Linked DNA regions of Homo sapiens. The protein of the gene in region 4 purifies or fractionates together with the protein of the main gene of each other region. This does not show direct contact. Each region holds a gene or a part of one and is shown on either strand. Other genes may lie near its edges. The genes, in order: PI4K2A, NDFIP1, UGCG and TSPAN3.

What was found.
Region 1: the proteins of TSPAN3 (region 4) and PI4K2A purify together in Homo sapiens (affinity purification with mass spectrometry; 3 studies listed by BioGRID and IntAct, with this or other methods). This does not show direct contact.
Region 2: the proteins of TSPAN3 (region 4) and NDFIP1 purify together in Homo sapiens (affinity purification with mass spectrometry; 3 studies listed by BioGRID and IntAct, with this or other methods). This does not show direct contact.
Region 3: the proteins of TSPAN3 (region 4) and UGCG purify together in Homo sapiens (affinity purification with mass spectrometry; 3 studies listed by BioGRID and IntAct, with this or other methods). This does not show direct contact.

The regions. Positions count from the first base shown.
Region 1 is NC_000010.11:97,635,889-97,643,673, forward strand, and holds the start of PI4K2A (phosphatidylinositol 4-kinase type 2-alpha), read left to right. Parts: upstream 1-4,782; 5' UTR 4,783-4,854; coding exon 4,855-5,289; intron 5,290-7,785. UniProt on the Homo sapiens protein: Membrane-bound phosphatidylinositol-4 kinase (PI4-kinase) that catalyzes the phosphorylation of phosphatidylinositol (PI) to phosphatidylinositol 4-phosphate (PI4P), a lipid that plays important roles in endocytosis, Golgi function, protein sorting and membrane trafficking and is required for prolonged survival of neurons.
Region 2 is NC_000005.10:142,146,779-142,153,803, forward strand, and holds part of NDFIP1 (NEDD4 family-interacting protein 1), read left to right. Parts: intron 1-4,952; 3' UTR 4,953-7,025. UniProt on the Homo sapiens protein: Activates HECT domain-containing E3 ubiquitin-protein ligases, including NEDD4 and ITCH, and consequently modulates the stability of their targets. As a result, controls many cellular processes.
Region 3 is NC_000009.12:111,913,798-111,920,822, reverse strand, and holds part of UGCG (ceramide glucosyltransferase), read right to left. Parts: intron 6,219-7,025; coding exon 6,077-6,218; intron 5,065-6,076; exon of another isoform or gene 4,987-5,064; intron 1-4,986. UniProt on the Homo sapiens protein: Participates in the initial step of the glucosylceramide-based glycosphingolipid/GSL synthetic pathway at the cytosolic surface of the Golgi.
Region 4 is NC_000015.10:77,061,110-77,068,134, reverse strand, and holds part of TSPAN3 (tetraspanin-3), read left to right. Parts: intron 1-7,025. UniProt on the Homo sapiens protein: Regulates the proliferation and migration of oligodendrocytes, a process essential for normal myelination and repair.

The DNA.
Region 1 (7,785 bases), on a different chromosome or scaffold from region 4:
AGATTGGAAGCAAAGTAACAAACTCAGAAGTTATTGTAATAATGCAACTAACACATCCTGGAAGTTTCATGTAGCATCAGTGGAGATGAAAGAAAGGGGGTAAATATGAGACATATTTCATAGGGATATTTAATAAGAATCAACATAGTGTTAAGAGCATGGAAACAGTCTGCCTGGATTTGGATCCGGCTCTGCCATTTACCAGCTGAATGACCATGGGCACATTACCTTTACCTCCCTGGGTCTGGGTTTCCAACATCACAGGATACTATAAAGCTGGTTCCATGAGTTAATCCATGTAATGCATTTAAAACAATGTCTAGGCCGGGTGTGGTGGCTCATGCCTGTAATCCCAGCACTTTGGGAGGCCGAGGTGGGCGGATCATGAGGTCAACAGATCGAGACCATCCTGGCCAACATGGTGAAACCCCGTCTCTACTGAAAAATACAAAAATTAGCCGGATGTGGTGGCCCGCGCCTGTAGTCCCAGCTACTCAGGAGGCTGAGGCAGGAGAATCGCTTGAACCCGGGAGGCGGAGGTTGCGGTGAGCTGAGATTGCACAACTGCACTCCAGCCTGAGTGACAGAGCCGGCTAATTTTTGTATTTTTAGTAGAGACAGGGTTTCACCATCTTGACCAGGCTGGTCTCGAACTCCTGACCTCGTGATCCACCCGCTTCGGCCTCCCAAAGTGCTGGGATTACAGGCGTGAGCCACTGTGCCTGGCCAAAAAATTTTTTTAGATAAAATAAAAGACTCTGAGGGGTTTCTGTGGAGAAAAAACTCAGAATTCCAGGGAGAACTCTAAATCTGGGACCTTTCCTTTACCATAATTTGAAGCTTATGGGCTAAATGAGATGAATGATACCAAAAGATTATCTATGTGGCTACAGACCCTGGGCCACAAGAGCCAGGCATCAGTTGATTATTGAGGTCTAGATAGGAAAAGGAAGTGCATGTATTATAACTGAAAGGGGCAATTTAACCTTCTGTACGACTTTTGTTTAGAATGGTTTGTCTGGCCAAAAATGTTTAAGACATTCCCATACATATAATTAAACAATAGTGCTTTCAATTTGGTATTTCTAGTTAGCAGTGGCAATAATTTGATTCAAGAAAGAATGATTATGAAATATTGGTGACTATGTGACTGGCCATGATTCGTGAAAGCCCATACCTCTAGTCTGCTGGTGACTTTAAGCATAAAAACAAAAACAACATCAACAGTAACATCAGCAGTGATTTTTTTTCAAAAAGCTACCATATGTTGAGTGCTCTTTATGTACAAAACACTATGCTAAGTGCTTTATTTTTATTTTTCCTATTAGAGAGTCATGCTTCATATGCTAAGTGCTTTACATAACATTATATTGATTCTTGATTCAGTAATCATGGGGATGATTATTCCCATTTTATAGATTAAGGAACTGAGGCTTAGAGAGGTTATATAACTTGTCTAAAACAACTGATCATCATGGAGACTGGATTCAAACTCAAATGTCTCTGATTTCCAAGCCCATGCTTCCAACCATTACATTTTACACTTTTTTTTTGAAACGGAGTCTGGCCCTGTTGCCTAGGCTGGAGTGCAATGGCACGATCTCAGCTCACTGCAACCTCCACCTCCCAGGTTCAAGCGACTCGCCTGCCCCAGCCTCCGTAGTACCTGGGATTACAGGCGCCTGCCACCATGCCTGGCTAATTTTTTGTAGTAGAGACGAGGTTTCACCATGTTGGACAGGCTGGTCTCAAACTCCTGACCTTGTGATCCACCCGCCTTGGTCTCCCCTAGGATTACAGGTGTGAGCCACCAAGCCTGGATGTACATTCTACACTTTTGAAGGTAGTGTTTGCATACATTTTTTTTTGAGACGGATTCTTGTTCTGTCGCCTAGGCTGGAGTGCAGGGGTACGATCTCAGCTCACTGCAACCTCCACCTCCCAGGTTCAAGCGATTCTCACACCTCAGCCTCCCAAATAGCTGGGATCATAGGCGTGTGCCACCAAGCCCAGCTAATTTTTTTTTTTTTTTTGTATTTTTAGTAGAGACAGGGTTTCGCCATGTTGGCCAGGCTGGTCTTGAACTCCTGACCTCAGGTGATCCACCCGCCTCAGCCTCCCAGAGTGCTAGGATTATAGGCGTGAGCCATCGTACCTGGCTTGTTTGTATAAATTTTAACTGAAACAGTATTCCATGAATTTATTATTATTATTATTTTTTCAGATGGAGTTTCGCTCTTGTTGTTCCAGGCTGGAGTGCAGTGGCACAATCTCTGCTCACTGCAACCTCCTTCTCCCAGGTTCAAGCAATTCTCCTGCCTCAGCCTCCCAAGTAGCTGGGATTACAGGCATGTGCCACCAAGCCCGGCTAATTTTTGTATTTTTAGTAGAGACGGGGTTTCACCATGTTGCCCAGGCTGGTCTCGTTCTGTTCTACTTTCCAGGCCCTTGGTAACCCAGTTTAACTCTGCTTCCCCTCGAATCAAGAAGGTTGCTCTCTGTTCCCTATATGCCCTAGCCTTCCTCTTTTACTCAGGTAACTCCTGCTTGGTGTAACATTTTTTTCCTGTCTCCTTTTTTTCCAGCAATCTAATTACTCTTTCTTTAAGACTCAGCTCATAGCACATGACCCACTTAAAGCCTTTGCTTGATCCTTGAGCATTCTGGTTGAAAAAAAAAATTAGAAAAAAAATAAAGCCTTTGCTGAGCCTGCAGCCTGCCTCAGTTAATTGGTGAACTGTTACGGAGTTTTGAGCTCATTTTGCTTTTTTTTCTCCTACTGCCTCAGAAAGCCACATGCCTTCAGCTTGAGGGCAGGGACTCTATCTTCCTTCCCTTTCTCATGAATAATAATGTACTGAGCACCTACTGTGTCTAGACACTGAGATTTAACAGTGTGAGTAAAAGCAATGGACTCTTACCTCGTGGTAAGAACTTCTTAGGCTCATGGGACCATATTTTTCTTCAATTAACAAATAAGCATTGAGCAGCTGGGCCAGGCACAGTGTAAGATATTAATTGGCTATGTATTATTCTTTGTATCACAAGTTTGTATCTTCACAGGAACTTGAAGATAATGGGTGAGGCAGCGAGTCAGGAATAAAATGTCTTAACAATTGCCCCTGGGTTTTCCTAGGAACTCCTTAAAAAAATTAATTTTTAAAAAATAGATGGAGTCTTGCTATGTTGCCCAGGCTGGCCTTGAATTCCTATAAGGTTGAGAAGGAAAGATAGCTTAGAGCAGTCTGAGCTCTGTGTGATGTATGCACAGTCTATTGGCTCAAAGACATGAGTATGGGACTTCAGTCATGCCTTCCACACCCACACTCTGGGGCAATGGTTTCTTTCTTTCTTTCTTTCCTTTCTTTCCTTCCCTTTCTTTTCTTTATTTCTTCCTGCCCCTCTCCCTCTCCCTTTCTTTCTTTCTCTTTCTCTCTTTTTCTTTCTTTCTTGACAGAGTTTCTCACTGCAACCTCTGCCTCCTGGGTTCAAGCGATTCTCCTGCCTCAGCTTCCCGAGTAGCTGAGATTATAGGCATGTGCCACCATGCCCGGCTAATTTTGTATTTTTAGTAGAGACAGGGTTTCTTCATGTTGGTCAGGCTGGTCTTGAACTCCCGACCTCAGGTGATCCGCCTGCCTCAGCCTCCCAAAGTGCTGGGATTACAGGCGTGAGCCACTGTGCCTGGCGGGTTTTTTTCTTTTAAAAATTTTTTATTTTTTGGCTGCACTGTGGGTGGTTCACACCTGTAATCCCCCAGCACTCTGGGAGACTGAGGGAGGAGGATCGCCTGAGGCCAGGAGTTCAAGACCAGCCCAGGCAACATAGAGATAACCTAACTCTAAAAAAATAATAATAATATTTTAAAAAGAAATCTTCAGGGCTTCCTAGGAAAACCTGGAGGCAATTGTTAAGACATTTTATCCTGACTGGCTACTTCACCCATTACCTTCAAGTTCCTGCGAACTTGAAGTGTAACCTGACATTGTTACATCTACATTGGAAGTATGTTAGGTCAACTGAGATACGAATTTGGGATACAAAGTACAATGTATAGCCAATCTATAACTTGTTATTTTAATGTAAATTCTTGGTAAACAAGTTAGGAACTGCCTCTTTTCCTTTAAAAACCTACTTCCAGGCCAAGCGCAGTGGCTCACACCTGTAATCCCAGCACTTTGGGAGGTCGAGGTGGGCAGATCACTTGACCTCTGTCGTTTTTTTTTTGGAGACTGATCACTCTGTCTCAAAAAAAAAAAAAAAACAAACCCAAAAAACAAACCCCCCGCCCCAAAAAAAACGTTTCATCGAGGTAGAGCAGCAGCTTTGTTTCTTTGCTTCACTGCTGTCTCCCTAGCACTTAGAACATAGTACGTGCTCAATAAATGAATGAGTGCCTGACTGAATGAATGAGGATACATAGATGAGATTCCTCCAATCTCACAGCCGGTTCAGAGTAGGCACTCAATGAGTGACTGACAGGATAGTTGCTGTTTTGAAAGCGCCCAAGTCCAGTAAGCCAATTGGAAGCTAAGCGTGGCGCTGGTATAGTAGGGGCAGGGGGCGTGCCTGACCCAAGGTTGGGTCCTGGAGCATGCGCAGTCTTCACAGAAGGTGACGGGGAGAAAAATGCGGAGGCAGCGATTGCGTAGGAGCAGGTTCTGATTGGCTACTGTTCGCGCGCGAGGGGCCGTGCCTATTCGTAGCCAAGTAAACAGGGCAGGTTAGAGGCGGGGCCAAGGAGGCGTCGCGACCTGGTTGGCCGGCCGGGGCCTGGGGGATGTCACGGATTGGTCGCGGCCGCGAGCGCAGTGGTGTGGAGCGCGCCGGGTCCCGGAGCCGGCTGTCTGAGGGATGGACGAGACGAGCCCACTAGTGTCCCCCGAGCGGGCCCAACCCCCGGACTACACCTTCCCGTCGGGCTCGGGCGCTCACTTTCCGCAGGTGCCCGGGGGCGCGGTCCGAGTGGCGGCGGCGGCCGGCTCGGGCCCCTCTCCGCCGGGCTCGCCGGGCCACGACCGCGAGCGGCAGCCACTGTTGGATCGGGCCCGGGGCGCGGCGGCCCAGGGCCAGACCCAAACCGTGGCGGCGCAGGCCCAGGCTCTGGCCGCTCAGGCCGCGGCGGCAGCCCACGCCGCTCAGGCCCACCGCGAGCGGAACGAGTTCCCGGAGGATCCTGAGTTCGAGGCGGTGGTGCGGCAGGCCGAGCTGGCCATCGAGCGCTGCATCTTTCCCGAGCGCATCTACCAGGGCTCCAGCGGAAGCTACTTCGTCAAGGACCCTCAGGGGGTGAGTGCGGGGGTGGGGACCGCCGCCGCGGGCTGAGGGCCGGCGGCGCTCCTGGGGAGTTGGGGGCTTCGCACAGCCAGAGGGAAAAGGGAGAAACTTCACAGTACCAGCCCCTGGCAGGATTTAGGGATGCCACTGAGGACTGGAGCTGGGGACGCTCTGCGGAATGGAGAAATAAATCAGAACCTACTTGGTGGGGGAGGAGTGAGCGGAAAATGAAAAGAGGAAATTGACCAGATACGGGCCGGGGGCTCAGCGGTGTGGTGGGGCAATCCGCCGCTGGACAGAGACTGCTTTCTAGTAGGGTACTTAGCTTCACACTACTGGGACAGCTATTCGGCCGCCGACTTGCAGATTTGGGGCTTTAGGCCTGTTCTCTCTTTTTGGACCGACCGAACCAGTGTGTCGCTGTTCACGGAGGAGGATGGGTGACCTATCAGGGGATCTGAGAATTCAGTTCCAGCCTTCTATGTTGTGGGGGATGTCCCCTGCCACCGTCCCAGCTCTTATTAACAGACGTTGAAGAAAGAATGGGCGGACTCACCAGTTTCATCTGCCCTGGGTATTGCTCACTTCTGGGAAAGGGTTCAAATACTTTTTGACGACTCCAAAGTTTAGATAGAACTTGGAGTTTTAGAAACATGGGGCCATCAGCTACTTTTTCTTTCATTTCTCTCCCAGGGCTATCAACAGCCTGCTTTTCAACTAAGGCAGAGCGTTTGCCGACCTTTATTTTGTCCCCTGCCTGTATATAAAGGGGGATGGTTATAGGATGGGGCATGGAGTGACCAGGGTATCTGAGAAGTGACCTTTATCCTTTTGAGAACTGCAGAATTTAAGAAATACCAAGTCTTCCCTGTTTTCAGGGAAGTTTCAGGGAAATTTTCAGGTGTGCTGCAATGGGTCATTGGAAAGATGTATTGTTATTTAAATTATGGGTGTCAAAGTTTCCTCAGATTTTCCCTGACATCTCTCCTGTGTGAACTCTTTAGATGGCCAGGGTGCTGTTTTAATAGGAGTCCTGAGTGGCCAGGACGGGCTGTTACTTGTAGCTCTTGGTTCGGCTCATTGAATGATCTAGTTATTCACTCAGAGTTTGAGTCGTCCCTGAATTAATCAAGAATTAGAGAACAATTCTGCCATGAACTCAGTTTCTCAGTTTACATAAACTGAGTTGGGGAAAGCTTTGCGAGTAATAAGTCTTTCGAAGTTTCTTTTTCTTTTTTTTTTTCTTTTTTTTTTGAGACAGAGTCTTGCTCTGTCGCCAGGCTGGAGTGCAGTGGCGCGATCTCAGCTCACTGCAGCCTCCGCCTCCCAGGTTCAAGCAATTATCCTGCCTCAGCCTCCTGAGTGGCTGGGACTACAGGCGTGCACCACCACACCCAGCTAATTTTTGTATTTTTAGTAGAGACCATGTTGGCCAGGATGGTCTCGATCTCTTGACCTTGTGATCTGCCCACCTCGGCCTCCCAAAGCGCTGGGATTACAGGCGTGCCACCGCGCCCGGCCTCCAAGTTTCTTAAATAAAAGAGCTTGCAAGCTCAAGTGGGAACCATCATTTCTAGAAGCAAAGAAATGTGAGTGCCCTGAGGTTTAAATGTCAGCCAGAGGCTTGCTTGCTTTCTCTTTCTTCCTTCCTTCCTTCCTTCCTTCCTTCCTTCCTTCCTTCCTTCCTTTCTTTCTTTCTTTTTCTTTCTTTCTTTCTTTCTTCCTTCCTTCCTTCCTTCCTTCCTTCCTTCCTTCCTTCCTTTCTTTCCTTTCTTTCTTTCTCTTTCTTTCTTTTTCTTTCTTTCTTTCATTCATTCTCTCTTTCTCGTCTTTCTTTCTTTCAGAGAAGGTCTCACTCTGACACCCAGGCTGGAGTGCAGTGGTGCAGTCTCACTGCTCACTGCAGCCTTGACATCCAGGGCTCAAGGTCCTCCCACTCAGCTTCCGAGTAGCTGGGACTACAGGCACGCACCACCACACCCGGCTAAAAATTATTTTTCATGGAGACAAGAGTCTCGCCATGTTGCCCTGGTTGGTCTCAGACTCCTGGCTTCAAGCAGTCATCCTCTTGCCTCAGCCTCCCAAAGTGCTGGGATTACAGGTGTGACCCACCATGCCTGTCCTTTTTTTGTGGGCAGAGGGTATTTTTAGTTTGTTGGCAAATGTAAGAAGGGGCTAAGATTATCTTTGATAGGTACAGGAGAAGGAGGAATATTTTTGTTTTTCTTTCATGACACTGTTAGAGCTGCATTGGAAGTGGGTTAGGTCAGCTGAGAAGTGAGCTGGTGCTTTGACAGATGGAAGTAATACGATCTCTTAATTCTACCTGGCAGGTAAAGTACTACCATCTCAGTACATAGGCCACAGAGAAGGACAGACCATAGGTATGTTACTTGGTGATTTAGGGATTCCAGTCTCTAAAATTTCCTGGCCACTATCCTTTCTCATAGGGGAAGTCCAAACACAGATGCCCTGACAAAACTTTTTGACGTACTCATACTGCTTCCA
Region 2 (7,025 bases), on a different chromosome or scaffold from region 4:
AAATAGCAGCCCAGTTGACAGAAAGCCTGAACGTCTCAGTTTTCCTGTGTTGTTTGGTGCTTTACTGAAAATTTTGTTGTTATTGTTTGGATTTTCTAAAATTTCTGAAATGTTTTTTGATATTCTAAATTTAAAACTATGTATGTGGGGTTGTGATTTGAAGTAGGCAGTCCTTAGTAATAATAATGTTGTAGGAAGTACTAAGGGAGATTCAAGTGTTGAGCCTGCTGGTGCTTCAGGAGTGTACGTTAAGAGTTGTCAGAAACTTTCTCAGAGGTAAATGAATGCACACCATTGGAGGGCATAATAGAGTTTATTTGCTTTTCTATTTAACTGTGATACCCTGGTTTATTTGAAATCATTCCTGACACACCCAGAGAATTCAGAGCTCTAAATTAAGGGTTTGAGGAACTTACAGCAGAATTTAGAATTCTAATGACTTCACTAATTTTCCAGGGATCCCCAGAGGGAACCTGAAAAGCCATAATATCCTATGGGACTGAGTTCCCTTTGTCCACTGAAAGGGTAAGAACTCTGTCCAGATCCAGATGTAGAATCCCTTCTTTCTCTAGTTCAGAGGACATTTAGTTTAATTTTGTTAGAAGACATACTAGAAAACCGTCATGTGAAGTAAGAAAGCTTTATTTTTTTCCTCCCTATCGATTCTTTATTATGCTTATCACAGTTTTTAAAAAGTAATTATCTGCTAATTCCAACATCAGGTTAGATAAGTCTATTTGTATTGATGGATTTTTCTCTTGACTCTGGGTTACATTTTCCTGTTTTTACACACCTGGCCAGTTATTTCTTTGTTGCAGCATTGTTAATTATCATGTTGTAGAGATTATGAGCTCTGAATTTTGTCAGAAGGTTGTTGAGTTTTTGCCTAGCAGGCAGTCAAATTACTAAAGGATAAATTTGATCTTATTTCTAACTGTCATGTACAGTGATTCTTCTAGGGAGATAGGGATAGGGGAGAGGGAAAATGTAGTTTAAAAATCCTAGGCTAACTCCTGCTGAGGAAAATCACTGGTAAACTAGTGACTACTCTGCTAAATTGCCTCTCTTGACATTGTCAACCTGAAGCCATCAAAAGGATCAGAATACAGAGTTTATGCAAGTAGAAAGCTGGGAATGGCCAATCAGAGAACACAAACTTTAGAAAATGGGGTCAGTGTTCCCAAAAGCTTTATTTTCTTTTATGGACTTCTACTTCTTTGATGGAGATGTCACCAATTAAAAGGTAGCTGAAGAAAGACACAGGTAGGGAATTTTTAAAATAACTTTGCCAGAAAGATACAGATACAGAATTTTTAAAATAACTTTACCAAAACAGAAAAATAATATACTTTCCATATTGTACTAAGATTTGGCATTTTACTAGAAAAGGGCATAAGAATAGTGACTTTTCTAGTCAGGCTACCTGAAATATAGTACAAATAAACCAATCTTGAAGTGATCCCAAAACACCTCCTTCTAATCAGTCAAAGTAGATATTACAAAAGCTAAACATTAAAGCTCATGTACTACTATCATAGGGGCAGCTCTCAGGTTCCTTTTCAGAGTCCATTTAAGCTTAAGGGAGGGAAAAATGTATTAATAAGCTGTTATCTGTTTTCCTACTTCATAACAAAATGCCAGAAGGAACTGCTAAAGGTGTGCACAGTGGCCATCAAGAAGTATGTGACTGGGCCGGGCGCAGTGGCTCACGCCTGTAATCCCAGCACTTTGGGAGGCCGAGGTGGGCAGGTCACCTGAGGTTAGAAGTTTGAGACCAGCCTGGGCAACATGACAAAACCCCGTCTCTACTAAAGATACAAAAATTATCTGGGTGTGGTGGTGTGCACCTGTAATCCCAGCTACTTGGGAGGCTGAGGCAGAAGAATCGCTTGAACCCAGGAGGTGGAGGTTGCAGTGAGCCAAGATCACACCACTGCACTCCAGCCTGGGCGACAGAGCGAGACTCTGTCTCAAAAAAAAAAAAAAAAAAAAAAAAAAAGTATGTGACTGAGGAAGCAGAAGAAACAGATACCTGTTATAAACATCTGTACCTGAAATGGTAAAAAATGTAAAGTGTTTATACTTTTCTTATTTACCAGTTCACTGGAAAATACATTTTTATGGATTACCACCTCCTCTGATGCTGCCAGGTGAATGAGGAGTTAGCTACAGTAATAAGGTGGTAACACAGTTGATTGGTTATATCTAACACTATTTGTGTGGTACCAAAAGCACTTGTACATATGAAGCATAATATATTTTAAAATTATTTATTTTAACTGCATCTGAAATAGAAGGAAAAAAGGAGGTTTTTGAGCCCTAGCATTAATGAGCTAGGGCCTTCATAATTAAAAAAGTGACCTAGTGAGCTGTACCTATTAGGCATCAAATATTTTAATTTTTTTCCATGTGATAACAGACACTTTCATTTCTCCTTTTCTGTAATTTTTCTCCTGTTCCTTAATACTTCTTTTATTTTATTAAAGGAAATTCATCTCAAGGTAAAGGTTTACTTATTGGACTATGTTATAAGATAGCAAGATAATAGGGAAATGGTGTTTCCAGTAGAATTTTTGCTAAACAAAATTTACATGTCTCCAAGAAGAACTGGTTGTCTTCCTCTTGGAATTAAATGATCTGTAGGCTATTGGATTCCTTTTTTTTTTTTTTTTTTTTTACAAAGTGATCTGATCTATAATTTAGTAATACGGTCCAGAGTCCCTAAGATCTGTTTGTTCTTCAGTTTGTGTACTGCCAGCATTTCTGTAACACTGCCACTCAAGCCTCCAAGTCTCAGACAGCAGTGCCCTCTAGCAGTCTTTCATTTGGAGATTGTGTGGTGATTGAGATTACCCACTGGTGACCTCTCTAGGTCCTCTTGAGATATTTTATTTTAATTTAATTTTTACTTCTCTTACTGAACAAGCAAAGGGATTTTTAATGTTTGTTGGGTGTCAGGCTTTGACTTTGAGGGATCTATTAAAGCTGTTTACCTATGCTAAAGCATCATAAACTAAGGAAGTGGCCAGGTAATTGTCCGTACCATATTGTATATTCTTGCAAACTCTGTTTTGACCTACTAGTCACTGTTTCATCAGTTTTCATCTATTAAAAGAAACTGGGCCAGGCATGGTGGCTCACGCCTGTAATCCCAGCACTTTGGGAAGCCAAGGCGGGCAGATCACGAGGTCAGGAGATCAAGACCATCCTGGCTAACACAGTGAAACCCCGTCTCTACTAAAAATACAAAAAATCAGCTGGGTGTGGTGGCGGGCGCCTGTAGTCCCAGCTACTCGGGAGGCTGAGGCAGGAGAACAGCATGAACCCGGGGGGCGGAGCTTGCAGTGAGCCGAAATTGTGCCACTGCACTCCAGCCTGGGTGATAGAGCGGGACTCCGTCTCAAAAAAAAAAAAAAAAAAAATATATAGAAACTGATAAAACAAATTATTTATGTTTATAATGAGTCTGGCCTCATTGCAAAAACATTCATTTAATATTCATCTGCCAATTTTCTTTTTTGCTTCTGCTTGGCTTTTAGAGTTCCTCATATTTTTGTGTCTCTGTCTCTGTGCTTTCCGAGGTCTTTCAATCTCTTATGTCTCTCAATCTAAAGAAAAGATGTCCTTGTATCAGTTTCAGTGGTTTACTTCAAATCACAACACAAATGAATTTATAGTTTGGAAAAATGTTGATAATATTAAAATATGTTCATTTCCTCCAGTGTGTTTGTAGTCTCTCTCCATTTTGGCAGCCTTTTAAATACTTACGCAGTAATCTAATCAGAAAAGATACAGAAGACACCGGGCATAGTGGTGCACGCCTGTTAGTGCCAGTCACTTGCGGGGCTGAGGCAGAAGGTTGGCTTGAGCCCTGGAGGTGTAGGTTGCAGTGAGCCGAGCTCGCGCCACTGCACTCCAGCCTGAGTGACAGACTCTTGTCTCCAAAAAAAAAAAAAAGAAAAGAAAAGAAAGAAAAGACATAGAAGAGTTTCTTGTGGCTTTTATAGTAATTTGGAGGATAGAAAAGTAAGTTATAGGCCGATATTTGAGCCCATCCAACTCTCACTTCTTGCTGAGTACCACAAAATAGTTTCTCAATAAATGTTTATTAAGCAGTAAATGTATCTCTTTAGTGTTTCTTCTTTTATTCTTAATAGTTCTTCTTTTATTGTTAATATAGGGAATTACTTGTAGTTTTTCCCAAGTTATTTTCATGAGAACCAAAACAATATACTAGTACAGAAATGCCTCAAAGTATTAGATGAAAACTGCATTTAGTAAAATGCGTAGGCATTATTTCGAGAGCATTTATTTCAGTCAGATATATTCCTTTCTTAAAATTTAGTTTGAAAGTACATGTATTATTTTAAGAGAAACATGCCCCAAATACAATGACTTTTTAGGAAAACTTGTTTTTTAAAAGTATTTGTGGTACCTGTGAGTTTATCCTTGTTTTCTAATTTTGCCATGCTCGGTTGAGGTATAGCATGACATGGTTGGCATCCTTACTGGAAAGCTTCCTTGTGCAATATCTAGTGGAATTGTTAGGGTAAACAGTATCTTCAGGTATATTAGGAAAATTACTTGTGCACTTGGATTATGCTCTCTGTCCCAAGTTTCAGTCATTGCTGACAGCGTTCAGTGTGGGATGCGCAGTAGCACTGCTTCCATTGTATTCTTTTGTTAAGAGGTTTGGAAAGAGAGACTCCTGACTTCAGGAGTTTTTAGAAAAAGCATTCCAGTTTTTTCTAGTTCTAGAGGCCTTGATAACTTTAAGAACTGAAATTTTAATGTTTATTGAATACCGTGATGTCAGTATACAGTAATCTTAAAACTATGTTAAAATGCACTTGTGTCTCCAAACATCCTGCCTTCTTTTGTGACTACATCCTTCTCTTAGCCAAAATAACAAGCTAACTAGAGTTTCAATATTCAATATCCTTCTCTGGCAGATGTTTTCTGGCAAAGGCCTTCCTGCATTTATGAATTCTCTCTCAAGAAGCAAGAGAACACCTGCAGGAAGTGAATCAAGATGCAGAACACAGAGGAATAATCACCTGCTTTAAAAAAATAAAGTACTGTTGAAAAGATCATTTCTCTCTATTTGTTCCTAGGTGTAAAATTTTAATAGTTAATGCAGAATTCTGTAATCATTGAATCATTAGTGGTTAATGTTTGAAAAAGCTCTTGCAATCAAGTCTGTGATGTATTAATAATGCCTTATATATTGTTTGTAGTCATTTTAAGTAGCATGAGCCATGTCCCTGTAGTCGGTAGGGGGCAGTCTTGCTTTATTCATCCTCCATCTCAAAATGAACTTGGAATTAAATATTGTAAGATATGTATAATGCTGGCCATTTTAAAGGGGTTTTCTCAAAAGTTAAACTTTTGCTATGACTGTGTTTTTGCACATAATCCATATTTGCTGTTCAAGTTAATCTAGAAATTTATTCAATTCTGTATGAACACCTGGAAGCAAAATCATAGTGCAAAAATACATTTAAGGTGTGGTCAAAAATAAGTCTTTAATTGGTAAATAATAAGCATTAATTTTTTATAGCCTGTATTCACAATTCTGCGGTACCTTATTGTACCTAAGGGATTCTAAAGGTGTTGTCACTGTATAAAACAGAAAGCACTAGGATACAAATGAAGCTTAATTACTAAAATGTAATTCTTGACACTCTTTCTATAATTAGCGTTCTTCACCCCCACCCCCACCCCCACCCCCCTTATTTTCCTTTTGTCTCCTGGTGATTAGGCCAAAGTCTGGGAGTAAGGAGAGGATTAGGTACTTAGGAGCAAAGAAAGAAGTAGCTTGGAACTTTTGAGATGATCCCTAACATACTGTACTACTTGCTTTTACAATGTGTTAGCAGAAACCAGTGGGTTATAATGTAGAATGATGTGCTTTCTGCCCAAGTGGTAATTCATCTTGGTTTGCTATGTTAAAACTGTAAATACAACAGAACATTAATAAATATCTCTTGTGTAGCACCTTTTACTGTAGATTAGTGCTTAATTTCTTGGCTTGCATTTGTTGATTGCTAAGGCAATTTTTTCTAATCTTAGGGAATCATTCAGTAGATGCGATTAAAAAACTAATGTTGGGTCAATTTTTTTCTTCATTTTCAGCACAAGAAGTCCTCTTATATCCTACTAAATACATTCCTAAAAATGTATTTGAACATTGGTTCTGTAAAAGATAATGGACTAAAAAAGTAGAGAGGAGTTGTAGAGATCTTAAATCATTCTGGAATTCCTAATTATGCTTCAATTTTTAGACATAATTTTAGATAATTTATTTCCAGTGTTTTCTGCATGTTCTCATTTGTTCTTTTTCTCAGTTGAATGCACCAACTGGTTTGAGTCCTGTGAGCATTCAGTCAGTTGAAATTAAAGATTCCTCATTTCTCCTGATTTCTATTCTTGTCTCAATCTTAAATTTAGAGACCAGTTGTTTTTATGATATCAGCCATTTGATTTTTTTCATTTTCTATTTAAGAAATATGAAGAAAAAATACACCAAGATGGTCAAATTACTACACAAATCAGCACCAGCACAGTCTGATAGCTGCAAATGTCCATTCATCTGCTGTGTATGTATATCCAGAATCAGCATAGGAAGTCGTTCAGGATATCAGTATATAATGCACAGAAGTGTGGGTTGTTTGAAAGCCAAACAGGAAAATTAGGAGCCTCCTGGATTGACATTTCAATGATCCCTCTAACCAGTTTATGGATTATTATGAATAATAGTGTAGTGTGTTCTTTTTCAGAAGTTATATTTGATAATAGAGAAGGGAGTTTTATGGAAGTTTCTTTGAAGATTTTTTTTTTTCCATTTCGAATCAGATTATAGCAACAATGGAGTTTGGAAGTTTGTATGGCCTATAATGTTCTAAGTTCCAGAATGAAAAGATCTGTAACAATCTGAATAGATGTGGACACATATAGCAGAGAGAACTATGTAAATTATCTTGCAGAACAAAATAGAAGGGTCCTAAATCACGTTAACTCAAACA
Region 3 (7,025 bases), on a different chromosome or scaffold from region 4:
AACTCAAGAGAACGACAAAGTCTGTTATATTTACTTCCAATGATAAGCATACACAAGTAAAAAGTAGAAATAAAATGTTTATAGTGCCTGTGAGCATAATAACAATTGTTTGCCCACTACCTATAATCTCAGCAAAAACTGCCAATAAAAAAATTTGTGGGCCAGGCGTGGTGGCTCAAGCCTGTAATCCCAGCACTTTGGAGGCCAGGGCAGGTGGATCACCTGAGGTCAGGAGTTCGAGGCCAGCCTGACCAACATGGTGAAACCCCGTCTCTACTAAAAATGCAATAATTAGCAGGCATGGTGGCACACACCTGTAATCACAGCTACTTGGGAAGCTGAGGCAGGAGAATCGCCTGAACCTGGGAGGCAGAGGGAGGTCGCAGTGAGCCGAGATTGCGCCACTGTACTCCAGCCTGGGCAACAAGAGTGAAACTCCGTCTCGGGGAAAATAAAAATAAAAGAAATTTGCAGTTGATCACAAAAGAACCAAGACTAAGGTTAATGAAGAAGGTTAGCTAATAAGATTTTTTGTCAAATGAAAAACATGTTTTCTTAATAATTAAGTCGATGAGGAAAACAATGTATATTTTCCTCATACTTTCTACCTACATACTGCTGTTATTATATATTCTATCCAATATCTACCTCTAATGATGACTGACGAAAATTGCCACTCAAGAGGTACTGAAACCAACTTGACAGTTACCTGGTCTCCAGAGACCAGATAAAAATCTGAAAATGGAAAGGGCCCTACTTCTACCACCCTCCTGAGATTTCCTTAAGAGCTGACTCTAAGTCACAGAAAGTGTCAGTCAGCCTCCCATCCAGACTCTCAAAACAATATTTGGCTGAGCCACCAAAAAGGCAATGACCTTCACAATAATGATTAGAGAGGTTAAGTGACTTTTCAAACGGCAAAAGTAACAACGAGCTTTCCTACTATAGGAGGCTGCTCAGCCAGGCTTGCTCTAAAGAGTTCCTTGTTTTTCCAAACATAGCATAGTTTCTTTTTTTTTTTTTTTTTTGAGATGGAGTCTCGCTCTGTCACCCAGGCTGGAGTGCAGTGGCGCTATCTCAGCTCACTGCAAGCTTGGCCTCCAGGGTTCACGCCATTCTCCTGCCTCAGCCTCCCGAGTAGCTGGGACTACAGGCATCCGCCACCACGCCCGGCTAATTTTTTGTATTTTTCTTTAGTAGAGACGGAGTTTCACTGTGCTAGCCAGGATGGTCTCAATCTCCTGACCTCGTGATCTGCCTGCCTCGGCCTCCCAGAGTGCTGGGATTACAGGTGTGAGCCACTGTGCCCAGCCAGCATAGTATCTTTAATGGTTTTTTTTGAGACAGGGTCTTTCACTGTCACCCAGGCTGGAGTGCAGTGGCGTGATCTTGGCTCACTATAGCCTCAACTTCCCAGGCTCAAGCAATCCTCCCACCTCAGCCTCCCGAGTAGCTGGGACTATAGGTGTGCACCACCACACCTGGCTAATTTTTGTATTTTTAGTACAGACGACGAGCTGGTCTTGAATGCTTGGGCTCAAGTGATCTGCCCACCTCAGCCTTCCAAAGTACTGGTATTACAGGCATGAGCCACTATGCCCAGCCTTTAATGCTTTTTTAATGCTATTTTGTGAGTATGAGTACATATGATGAAAGGAAATGTTTATAAGTAATGCAATTCCATAAAGTACAATAAAAAACTAATCTTAGCTTTTATTTTCCCCAGCAAGAGAAAACTTTGTAAAAATATAGTACTAGAAATATACTCAATGGGAAGAAAAATGCTATACTAGTGTTAAGTAGGGAGGTTATAAGTAAGGGAGGTACAGTCTGCCTTTATTCAGATGCAAGGTTTGAAGTGTTTTTTTTTGTTTTTTTGTTTTTTGTTTTTTTTTTTTGAGACGGAGTCTCGTTCTGTCGCCCAGGCGGGAGTGCTGTGGCGCGATCTCCGCTCACTGCAAGCTCCGCCTTCCAGGTTCACGCCATTCTCCTGCCTCAGCCTCCCGAGTAGCTGGGACTACAGGCACCCGCCACTGCGCCCAGCTAATTTTTTTTTTGTATTTTTAGTAGAGACGGGGTTTCACCGTGGTCTCGATCTCCTGACCTCGTGATCCGCCCGCCTCGGCCTCCCAAAGTGCTGGGATTACAGGCGTGAGCCACCGCCCCCGGCCTTGAAGTTTTAATTTTTATTGATTACACTGCTTAAACATAATTTTTAATTAAAAACAAATACTTTCTGATTAGCCAGAGTGTAAATGAGACTCATATTCATATTATCCAAAAAAAAGTTCAGACTCAAATACATAAGATTCATTTGTTTTTGATATTGGAAATTACACCAAATTGGAGGCAGCATTCCAAGTATTTTCTAAAGTATCAGATTTTAACCAGGAATCATTTTTCAGCTATCAGCTCTGTGTCTTCACAATTTGATGAGATATTTTATTTGCTAAGAATCCCTGTATTAAAATTGTTAAATCAGGCCAGGCACGGTGGCTCACACCTGCAATCCCAGCACTTTAAGAGGCGGAGGCAGGGGAATCAACTGAGGTCAGGAGTTCAAGACCAGCCTGGCCAACATGATGAAATCCTCTCTCTACTAAAAATATAAAAATTAGCCAGCGGTAGTGGCATGCGCCTGTAATCCCAACTTCTCGGGAGGCTGACACGGGAGAATTGCTTGAACCCGGGAGGCGGAAGTGGCAGTGAGCCGAGATTGTGGCATTGTACTCCAGCACAGGTGACAGAGCAAGACTCTGCCTCAAAAGGAAAAAAAAAATCAATTCTATAATTGCAAAAAAGAAAAAAAAATCATAGTTATGACAGGTTCACTGTTAAGAACTCTGATAGTTGATTTAGGTATTCTTCACATGGCCAGAATTTACTGAAGTAAAGCCAGCAAGCCACTTTAGACGCAGATTATTGACTATTACTGCTACTGCTTAATCTCTCCCCAAATCCCTTCTACGCTGGTGACAAATGAGTGTTCAATGCTGTGGAAAATGAACTGCATCACCTTTTCATTCTTTTATGTCTTCCCAAGGAATGAGTATCAGTATAAAAGTAGACTTGTAAGATGAATACAGCGCAGAGATCTTTCAGAGCAACTAGTCTAGTCTCACCAAAATTGAAACCTAGAAATTCAGAGCAAGTACCAGTAGCAGTAAATTTTCTTGCACATGTCCAAAATTAAGTAAAATTTTAAAACTTGAAGATATGTTTTATTATTTTCCCCCAAATGGCCTATGATAGTCCCAATCGAATATTAGAAGAGAAAGTTATGTCCAAAATGAAAACATTTCCATACTCTGGTAAAACGATGTTCACACCAGGCAAAATGCAAATATGAAAGGGCACTGCGCCTGGCAGTCACGTAAATGTTTATTTTGGGTCTCCTTGACTTCTTGGTGACACAAATGCCTTGTCTGTTCATGCTCAGATATGCGTGATTTCAGTGGTTTAACTTTAGTCTCCTGTGGAACATTTGCCATTGTATTTGGTTTTCACCAAGTAAATAAAATGCTGTGAAATCAAATATTTCCCTTAGATTGCAGGTACTTTGCACTTCTCCTCTGCTTTCCAAACTTTCTATTTATACAGCTAAATATAAGTTTATAATTAGAAAATAAAATTCTGTACTAACAAAGAATAAAATAATCTGCAGATGCTATTCTTCATCTTACAATGAATGTCAAAATAGCTTTCTCCTCAACCCACTTAAATGATATAACTAAATGGAAAAAGAGCTACTACTCTAAGTGAAAACAAGAGCTCTTGAGATCATTCTAAACTGTAATTTCCAAAACAATTTTTTATTTCAATTTTTTAATTTTTATTTTTTTGAAGGTGGGGGTCTCACTGTGTTGCCCAGGCTGGTCTTGAACACCTGGCCTCAAGCAATCCTCCCGCCTCAGCCTCCCAAAGTGCTAGGATTACAAGCACAAGCCACCACGCCTGGCCAAAATCTTCATTCACAAGAAATCAGTTATGGGGTCATTAGAAATGCTCGTAATCAATGGATACATATAACCCTGGGGTTACTTTTTAAAATTCTTTCAGTAGGGCATGGTGGCTCATGTCTGTAATCCCAGCACTTTGGGAGGCTGAGGTGGGGGGATTGCTTGAGCCCAAGAGTTCAAGACCAGCCCCGGCAACATGGCAACACCCTCTACAAAAAATACAAAAATCAGCCAGGTGTGGTAGCACATGCCCATAGTCCCAGCTACCAGGGAGGGTGAGGTGGGAGGACTGGTTGAGCCTGGGAGGCTGAGGCTGCAGTGAGCCACGACTGTGCCACTATGCTCCAGCCTAGGTGACAAAGCAAGATACTGTCTTAAAAACAAAAACGAACACAAAAAACCATTCTTTCTACAACTAAACCCCTCACTGACTTCCTCAAGCATTTAAACCCCATGACTATCATCTCACAAGCACTACAACGTAAAAATTCCATGACCAATTTTAAGAGTGGTTGAATGGGGAAAGTGAAAGAGGATGGTTAAAAAACTGAAATGTGAGATTAAGTTTCACAATGATAATGCATATGACTCTAAGCTATGCTCTAAGATTCATTCATAATCAATAGAAAATTTCTTTCATTCGTAAACATTAATTCTCCTTTGCATTTACTTTTATGGAGCTTGAAAATCTCCCATTTTTCTTACTGCAAAGCTTATTTTACAATTAATTTTATTTATATCTTTCTCAATTACAAAAGGCTAAGTTTTACCATTTTTTAGTTTGAAAAAACAAGTATATACAATTATATCTTATTTAAAAATTATATATTTGATTGAAGTTAACACATGTATTTAATTCAAATATCTAAAATTATTAAGCATATAAACACACACAAACTAGAACATATAATTTTTTTGCTTCAAAACAGCTTCCAATACTCCAAAATTGGCTTCTAAACTCCAAAACTCCAAAGCAATAATATAAAAACACTAAAAATACAACTGAATGATACTCATGTCTACCTACTTAATAAGTGCTGCATTAAGGCTATCACATCTGTGTCTTCTCTATTCTTTTCATTGGTGCTACCGAGAAAAATAAAGGCTAAAAGAAAAGAAATAAGAGCATGAAAACCAGTCACCATAAGAAGTGTAGTGCGCATATCATCTTCCTTCTGATTATTTGAGCTACCCTGTCCAAAAAAATTAAGAGGGACGACTCTCCCAGTAGCAAAAACAGCTATGGAAAAACTGAGGCAATAGGGTAAAAATTGAGGCAAGTGAATAGAGACCGCAAAGGGAAAACTAAACTGTACTGAAAGTCAAGTGGGTAGAAGCTTAAAGACACATTCTTCTCACAAGTGATCTGTTACCACCAAAATGCCCTTTCAAAAGCAGTCTCAAGCAATTTAATACAAAGCTGCTGTAAAGCTAAGTACAAAAATCAAAGAATATTAAGTTATCCTAAGAAACTACAGGTGGACTACTAAAGCAAAGTGATAAAAAGAATACTTTCATCTCAAGAAAACTGGAAGGTCTCCAATTAAGGGAGTACACTGAGTTTACAGATATACAGATTATATAGATAAATGGTATAAGCAATACAATTAGCTATTAAAATCAGAACAGTAAGGAAATTAAAAATGAGGTAAGATGAAACCCTACAGTACCACTAACTGTAATCTATTCTTGGCTCAAAGCCAGTTTCTCCGGAGAAGTCACGTTTAGTTCTGGCTGTACTGCAACCCATTTCAGACCACTAACACTGCTTTCTCCCTCTCCTTGTCTCCTCTTCCTATTGTTCATATCCAGCTCTTATGGAAGAAAATTTTTATTTTCAAACTACCAGGCACTTGACAATGTCTGAGTTTCAGAAGGTTTACTCAGGGATCTCTACTTCACACGGACATATAGGTGGTTAGAAAGGGAATTTACACCCCTTCCTCAACCTATTTCTGTTCTGTGATGACTACTACTAAAGGTTATATTTTATGAGGCCAATATCATCATGAATTTTTAATACCTTCACCTTATACAGTGTTAAAATCCCTAAATGTTTATCATGAGGGGAACAAAACAAAACAAAACAAAACAAAAAACCGTAACACTGAACTTACTTTGGGATAATCCAATTCAAAGAATGTTTCCAGGTTGTTGATTAAGTTAGGATCTACCCCTTTCAGTGGTTTCAGAAGAGAGACACCTGGGAGCTTGCTATAAGGCTGTTTGTCAGTTGCCTTCTTGTTGAGGTGTAATCGGCTAAAAAGCAAATGATATAAAAATTATTTCTATAGAATACATTAGTGTCAAATCAAAGCACTGACAAGCTATCAATAAATCCCTAAATTCTAAGTTAAGATTTTTAAAACTTGACATCTTTCTAAAAGAGGATCTAAACATGAAGGGAAGTAGAACCAGGTAAGCATGGCTTTGAATGCGGTCCAACACAAATTCATAAACTTTCTTAAAACATTATGAGATTTTTTGCGATTTTTTAAAGCTCATCAGCTATTGTTAGTGTATTTTATATGTGACCCAAGACAATTCTTCTTCTTCCAATACGACCAAGGGAAGCCAAAAGATTGAATACCCATGATGTACTACTCTCTGACTATTGCTATACTCACAGAACTATGCCAGGCATAGCGCAGGCATTTCAATAAAATACATGGTGAAGAAATGAATGGCAGTGTTAGCCCAAAGATTAACTCCTCTTCCTCTTAAATTGCCACTGAAGTGGCCACAGAACTATAAAAACAGGTAAAATAAAACACCGTCTGCAGCAGAAAATTATGAAAGGATAACCAGAACTTTCTGAGAAATTTCTTTGCAGTGGGATAATACACAGTTAAAAGAAGTGTCAAGCAGTCTGCATGGCAAGCAAGATAATGGGACAACTGGAACTCCCAATATTAATAAGGTCAGAATGGCAGGGGTAGAACAGAAGGAAACTGAAAGTAAGAAAAAAACTCAATGATGAGAAAAATGTCTATTAATGACACTGGAAGATATACCAGTGCCACCAGTTCATAGATAAGTGACCAAATGGCCAACGTTCTCACTGCT
Region 4 (7,025 bases):
TGTGGACTAACTGTGGGAATCTGATGATGATGGGTAATGGCAACTAACATTTGAGTTACTATACCCCAGGCACTGTGCTAAACACTTTACATGGCATATCCTCACAGCTTTCCCATCTAGCAGGGAATATTAGGTACATTTTAGAGGAGAACATTAAGGTTGACTGAGCCAAAGTAGCACACCCAAGGTGTGATACAGCCTGCGTTCAAACCCAGGTTGTCCCATACTCTAGAGACTGTGATGTTAGGACAAAGTGTGATTTCAGAAGATTTGTAAAGAGAAGAAAGTTGTTAGAATCACTTCTCTAAAGCATGCTGATTTTGAGATTGCTAAAATTAGAAACTGTACCAGAATTTACATGACACTTTGTTTGGTTTTGAATTAAGTCATTATGAGGAAGTACATTAAAAAATGTTAAAAGGTTCTTCCTGGGAATTTGTAATGCATTCTTCAGTTCTAATAAATGTATTCTTATATGCTGGCCCCTCCCTCCTTTTAATGCCTTGAGATGATGAATAAGTGGAAGAATAAACATACTCTCCATAGAGCTTATCAAATGTTTACCTAGGTTCCCTTGGGCAACTGTAGGCAATAAAAACTATGTTGCATTGGCTCTTCACTGTCAGATGGTAATGGCTGATTGTTAACAAGGGTCAAAGTTTAATTGCTTTGGCAAGACCTTTAAACTACACTTTCTTATGTCTTGATATCCTGATTCTGCTGGCATTTTGTTCATTGAACTGTGACATGGAGATAGATATATACCTGAAATACTCAGGCTGTAAATTATCTGACAGCTAAAATCGTTACTGTTGATTTGGTGTAGATAGTTTGGAACAATGCTGTAATAATGTTACTGTGGAAAGGCACAAACCAAAAGCAGAAACAATCATTTCTAAAATCCTGAAATTTGTCTTAATGGAAATAGGGAACTCCTGCTATGGTTAGAATGTTTGTCCTTTATAAAACTCATGTTGAAACTGAATCCCCAATGTGGCCGTATTGAGAGATGGGGCCTTTAAGAGGTGATTGGGTCATGAGGGCTCTACCCTCATGAATGGATTAATCCATTCATGGATTAATGGATTAATGGGTTTTCATGGGAATGGGACTGGTGGCTTTATAAGAAGAGGCAGAGAGACGTGAGCCAGCATACTCAGCCCCCTCACCACGTGTGATGTCCTGGGCCACCTCAGGACTTTGCAGAAGGCCCTGACCAGCTACGGCCCCTTGACCTTGAACTTCTCAGCCTCCATGTATGTAAAAAAATTTCTTAAATTACCCAGTTTCAGGTATTCTGTTCTAAGCAACAGAAAACAGACTAAGACAGTTTCTCACCAAATTCTAGAATATTAAGATTTGTAGCTTGAAAGATAATCTTGGACAAGTGAAAGGATGTACAGCTTGGATCATCTTGGATCTCTGTTTTTATGGAATGATGAGGCTTTAAATATAAGTGTATTCATGCTGGACCCATGAGGATTTATTGAAGAAGGTTAGAAGTGTTTTAGGTAAATGACTAAATTTTAAAGGCTTTTTTTTTTTTTTTTTTTTTTTTTTTTTGAGACGAAGTCTTACTCTGTCGCCCAGGCTGGAGTGCAGTGGTGCGATCTTGGCTGACTGCAGCCTCTGTCTCCCGGGTTCAAGCGATCTTCCTGCCTCAGCCTCCCGAGTAGCTGGGACTACAGGCGTGCGCCACCATGCCCAGCTAATTTTCGTATTTTTTTAACAGAGACAGGGTTTCACCATATTGGCCAGGCTGGTCTCGAACTCCTGACCTCTTGATCCATCTGCCTTGGTCTCCCAAAGTGCTAGGATTACAGGCGTGAGCCACCGCGCCCAGCAAAGGCTATTGTATTAAATAGGCATTAGCCTATTCTGTAAACTGCACCTTTGTACCAAGGTCAGACAGGATTTTTAGTTTGGTAAGTCATTTAATCTGACCAAAGAGGGCTCGTCTAAAACAAGTTTAAATCAGTACTTCCTACCATTAAGTTTTTATTCCGGTAAATTAATTGATTATTTAATCAAGTCCTATGTTATACAAATTACCTTTACTTTTTTTTTAAACCCTATTAGAAAAACTAATTGGCTAATACTTATTTTGCTCATATTTATCTTAGGCATTACAGGGACTGGAACAGAAAGCTTTGTCCATGCTTATAGAATTTATAATCTTAAATATCTATTTAGGTTGTTGTTTTTCATCTGAGAGGTGATAGTATAAAACTGAGACACCTGTAGAGTGGGGGAAGTACCGCAAAAAAGTCAAACGCCTTTTAAATAAATGCCTTTAGAAATAGCTTTGGAACGTGGCACCTTCACTAACCATCATTCATTCATATGAAATACTTCACACATATAAATTGTAGTTGAAAGCCATATGTAACCTTTAAAACTTATCCTGCCTTTAAAAATAAAACTTATCAGCCAGGTGCGGTGGCTCATGCCTGTAATCCCAGCACTTTGGGACGCCAAGGGTGGCAGATCACCCTCCTGACTAACACGGTGAAACCCCGTCTCTACTAAAAATACAAAAAATTAGCCAGATGTGGTGGTGGGCACTTGTAGTCCCAGCTACTCGGGAGGCTGAGGCAGGAGCATGGCGTGAACCCGGGAGGCGGAGCTTGTAGTGAGCGGCGATCGAGCCACTGCACTCCAGCCTGGGCGACAGAGCGAGACTCCATCTCAAAATAAATAAATAAATAAAACTTATCACGCTTATGTCTGTGAATGTATATAATTAAGGAAAATTTGCTTTGTTAAATATAACACTACTATTTGAGCACCTACTTTGTGCTTATATTGTTGATAAATGATGAAAAGACAGTGAAAAATCCCTATTCTTACAGAACTTACTTTCCGGTGAAGCAAGACACACAAAAATAAACAAGAAAAATGATCAGAGTGATGTGTTATGCAGAGAATTAAAGGGTGATGTGATAAAGTGATTGGGTCGTGCTTTATGTTGGCAAAAAAAATCTGGAGTATAAGAAGTTGCTGACTTGGGTGATTTGGAAGAGATTGGGAGACTGGGGGGATTCAGAACTGAAGGAACAGGCTGTAGGCTGTAAGGCAAAAATATACTTGCTATGTTCAAATTACTAAGAGGTTTATACCGTCATGCTTTTGTTTAAAAAATAAAACTTTATAATGAGGTATTTCAAGTGTGGTTCTCCCTTGTCACAAATCTTGTACATACTTTGTGTTTTCCAGCACATCCTACACATTCGAGGTGGTAATATGATACTTTTAAACCGGAACCTGCATCTGATATCCTGGAATTTGTTTCTCTACTTCCTGTATTTCTCCTATCATGAATGACTGCTCTGACAAAGAATATGTCATGGGACACACCTTCAGCTAACTTTGCTTTTTCATGCTTGTTTTCAATTCACTAGAAGAAAATCTAACTTGTCAGGAAGCAAGTACATAATAGGAAGTGTCTGTCTTAGTTTGTCTTCAACAGTTAAGAAAATGAATGTTTCCACTCTTACTACATTCTTAGTCACCTGTCCACTGACCAAGAGCCTTGTGGCCCTGAGTAATCATTTAGAACTTGGAATCAGCAGGGGCGCTCTCTCTAGTTGCAGTTTAGGGAATGGGTTATTAGCTTTCTAGGATATTTATCATGCTTTGAAATAATTTAATGAATTTTATTCCATAAGATCCAATTCAGGTTAGGCTTGTTTGATTTTTTTTTTCAGAAAATGTATTCCATAAAGTTTGTACTTAGACCAGACGGGTGTACTAAGAATCATTCATGAGTAAATGTGTGTTGAATATCTACCCTTGACCTTTTTTTGAGAAATAGAGTAAACACAGTCCCTGTAGTCTGACAGCTAATGGGGAGAGAGGGTAGACTTTTCATCGAATTAAATTTCTACATGCACCTTTCCCCCAGAAATCTTACTCATGGCTGGTCTCAAGTAAGTCTTTATTGAAAAATATTGACATATCTTCTTCCTCTTCCTTCTCCTCACTGTCTTCCTTTTAGTAGTTAGGCAGAGTTAATAGGTAAGAAAAATTATCTGCATTTATGTGTAGTTTGTAATCTACTAAAGGGGTTCTAGAATAAATGTTGACATTTTGTAACTTACATTGTTGTTGCTACTGATTAAACACATAACCCAAGTGTGGATGAACTCTAGCATTACAAAGCTTAAGCACCTCAGGCTCCTATGATGTTGTAATGGACTCTTTTTACAATTAGAGTAGGGTGGGGTAACAGAGGGTCTCAAAGAAAATGCATATTTAAATTTCAGGCTTCTCAGATAACCTCTGGAGCCCTACTGTCTGGAAACAGCCAGTTTCCATGCTGTTACAATAATTTGGCAATGGCAATTGGTTAATCTCCAGTTTCTTTGCCACCTGAAATTTTGAGTTGTTCAGCCAGTAGATATTGGATTAAATAGAACAACTTTGTTAAGCTGGTTTAATAATGATTATGAAAAACCAAATAGAGAAAAGGTGAAAATAAGGCAGAATTGAGGAGCATGACCTTTGGCATATCATCAGAGTAATAGCAGTAAAAAGGATTAAAATATTTCTAATTTAAGAATAATGGCAATAATAATAGTGATGTTGATGGCAAAAGTGGCTTGTCAGAACTTTAAACTCTTAGCCAGGCTTGGTGGCACATGCCTGTAATCCTAGCTACAAGTAAGACTGAGATGAGAGGATCCCCTGAGGGAAGGAGTCTGAGGCCAGCCTGGGCAACATAGCAAGACCCTGTCTTAAAAAAAAAAAATAGAATTTTCTCATTAGTATAGTGGTGAGTTAAAAAAACACACATAAAACTTTACACCCCAATTTAAGTAGGACTTTAAAAAAAACTTGTCTCCTTGAAAAGTAATATTTATGAGAAAAGGAACATAATGTACATTGAAAGAATTGTGTTAGATAATCAGAAAACATGTACAGGATGAGTCAAAGCCACACAGACCTGAGAAAAGTGGTAAGTGGGAGAGATTGGCAGAGGTGCCTAAAATATTTAGGATGGAAGAGGTGTCTGTTTTTGGTTGGTTAAGGACACATCCAGGAATGAATTCATTGGTGAGAGAACATTAAAGCCTCAATTTCAGACATAATTTTAACTATTATTCTAATTATGCAAGTAATATATTTTAAAGAAGACACTAAAAGTATTTTAAAAAGCAAACTGGTATCACCCATAATTCTACCACCCAGAGACAACCAATATCAACATTTTGGTTTGTTTCCAATATGTGATATATGTGTTTTTTCCCCTATCACACCACAAGCATATTATTAAATGATGCTTTAAGAAAATATTTCAGGGCTGAATGCAGACACACCTCTGAATACCAGGGCTTTTTCATTTTCATTTTTGCAGCCACAATTTCATTACAACATCTCGATGAATTACCTTTTACACAAATCTGTGTTTCTGACTAACTTTCTAAAGGATAGATTCCTGGAAGTGGAATAAGTAGGTATAAAGGCATCAATGCTGAGGCAGATATGTATTGCCAGATTGTTTCCAAAAAAATGATTCTCTATTAGTTTGTGCTTCCGCCCATCTGAGGGCCCTTCTCTCTGCACCCTCACACATCTTTGAATACTCCTTAACTTTATTGCTGATCAGTTTGTTAGGTAGAAAATGATAGTATTTAATAGCTTCAGAAATTCTTGGTAAGAGTAGCTTTAATTTCTGAAAGAGGATTTGGAGTCTTTGGAATGGCCTTTTTTCCTTGAGAGTTGGTAGGAGAGTAAATGATATATTCAGGTAGTGGACTTACATAAGAAGTAGTTGTGTTTAGTGACGTAAACTGTTCTATCAGATTAAGTCAGAGGTGAAAGCATGGTTGAATTAGAGAATATACATTATGGCAAGTAGAATGCTAAACGATTTAAGATGATTTTAAGACACTTGTAATGGCATAAGGGTGAAGTTTGGGGAAGCTTTCAGAAATCCACTGTGTGGAATTACCAACGATTCTTCCCAGGAGAGAAAAGAGGTATATGAAAAATAATATGACAGTACAGGAAACTCTGGATTTAATGTTAAAAAGATATATGCATAAGATGGATTCCTGCCTATTTTTTCCCTCTGCTTTTAAAACCTGCTTTCTTACAAAGTCTAGAGTACAGCATTTTTTGCTCAGTCTTTTACTTCTTGACTTTTTTCCTTTCTCTCAACACTCCAGTCACTTCTACTTTACTAATTGATTCTTTGGCAAAAATCACTCCGAAGGGAGCAGTTCACACAGGCAAGCAAGAATTTGTCAGGCACTGTGCTTTTAGGTGAATAAAGTCCAGATGGTGCCTTGTCTTTACATTGTTTTGATTCTTGCCAGTTCTAGATGGGAATCATCATCAATGGCTACTACATACCACTGCAAGAAAATCACTTCTATTCTTTGCTTCAGCTTCGCCCAAAATGTCCTGTGGGATGCTTTCGCCTTTGTATTTCTAAATCTCCATGTAGGTATACTTTTGGCAACAGAGCTACTTTATCTCCCCACTTGTAGCAAATCTGTTTCATTTTTAATATTGCCACATTCCAATGGCAGGTTACACCGTGGTTGATGAAAAGGAATTTAATAGTTTTACAGATTTTAACTTTTTTTTTTTTAATTTTTTGAGACTGAGTTTTGCTCTTGTTGCCCAGGCTGGAGTGCAGTGGCGCAATCTCGGCTCACTGCAACCTCTGCCTTCCAGGTTCAAGCGATTCTCCTGCCTCAGCGTTTCTGAGTAGCTGGGATTACAGGCATGTGCCACCACGCCCGGCTAATTTTGTATTTTTAGTAGAGACGGGGTTTCTGCATGTTGGTCAGGCCGGTCTCGAATTCATGACCTCAGATGATCTGCCGGCCTTGGCCTCCCAAAGTGCTGGGATTACTGGTGTGAGCTACTGCGCCTGGCCCAGATTTTAACATTTTATCTACTTGTCTCTTTCATAGAATATTTGAAAATTACCCCCCCAAAAACTAGTTTCTAAGCTATGGAAAAAGCAATCTCATATAAGAATGAAATCTCTTTAAGATATTTCACATTTGTGC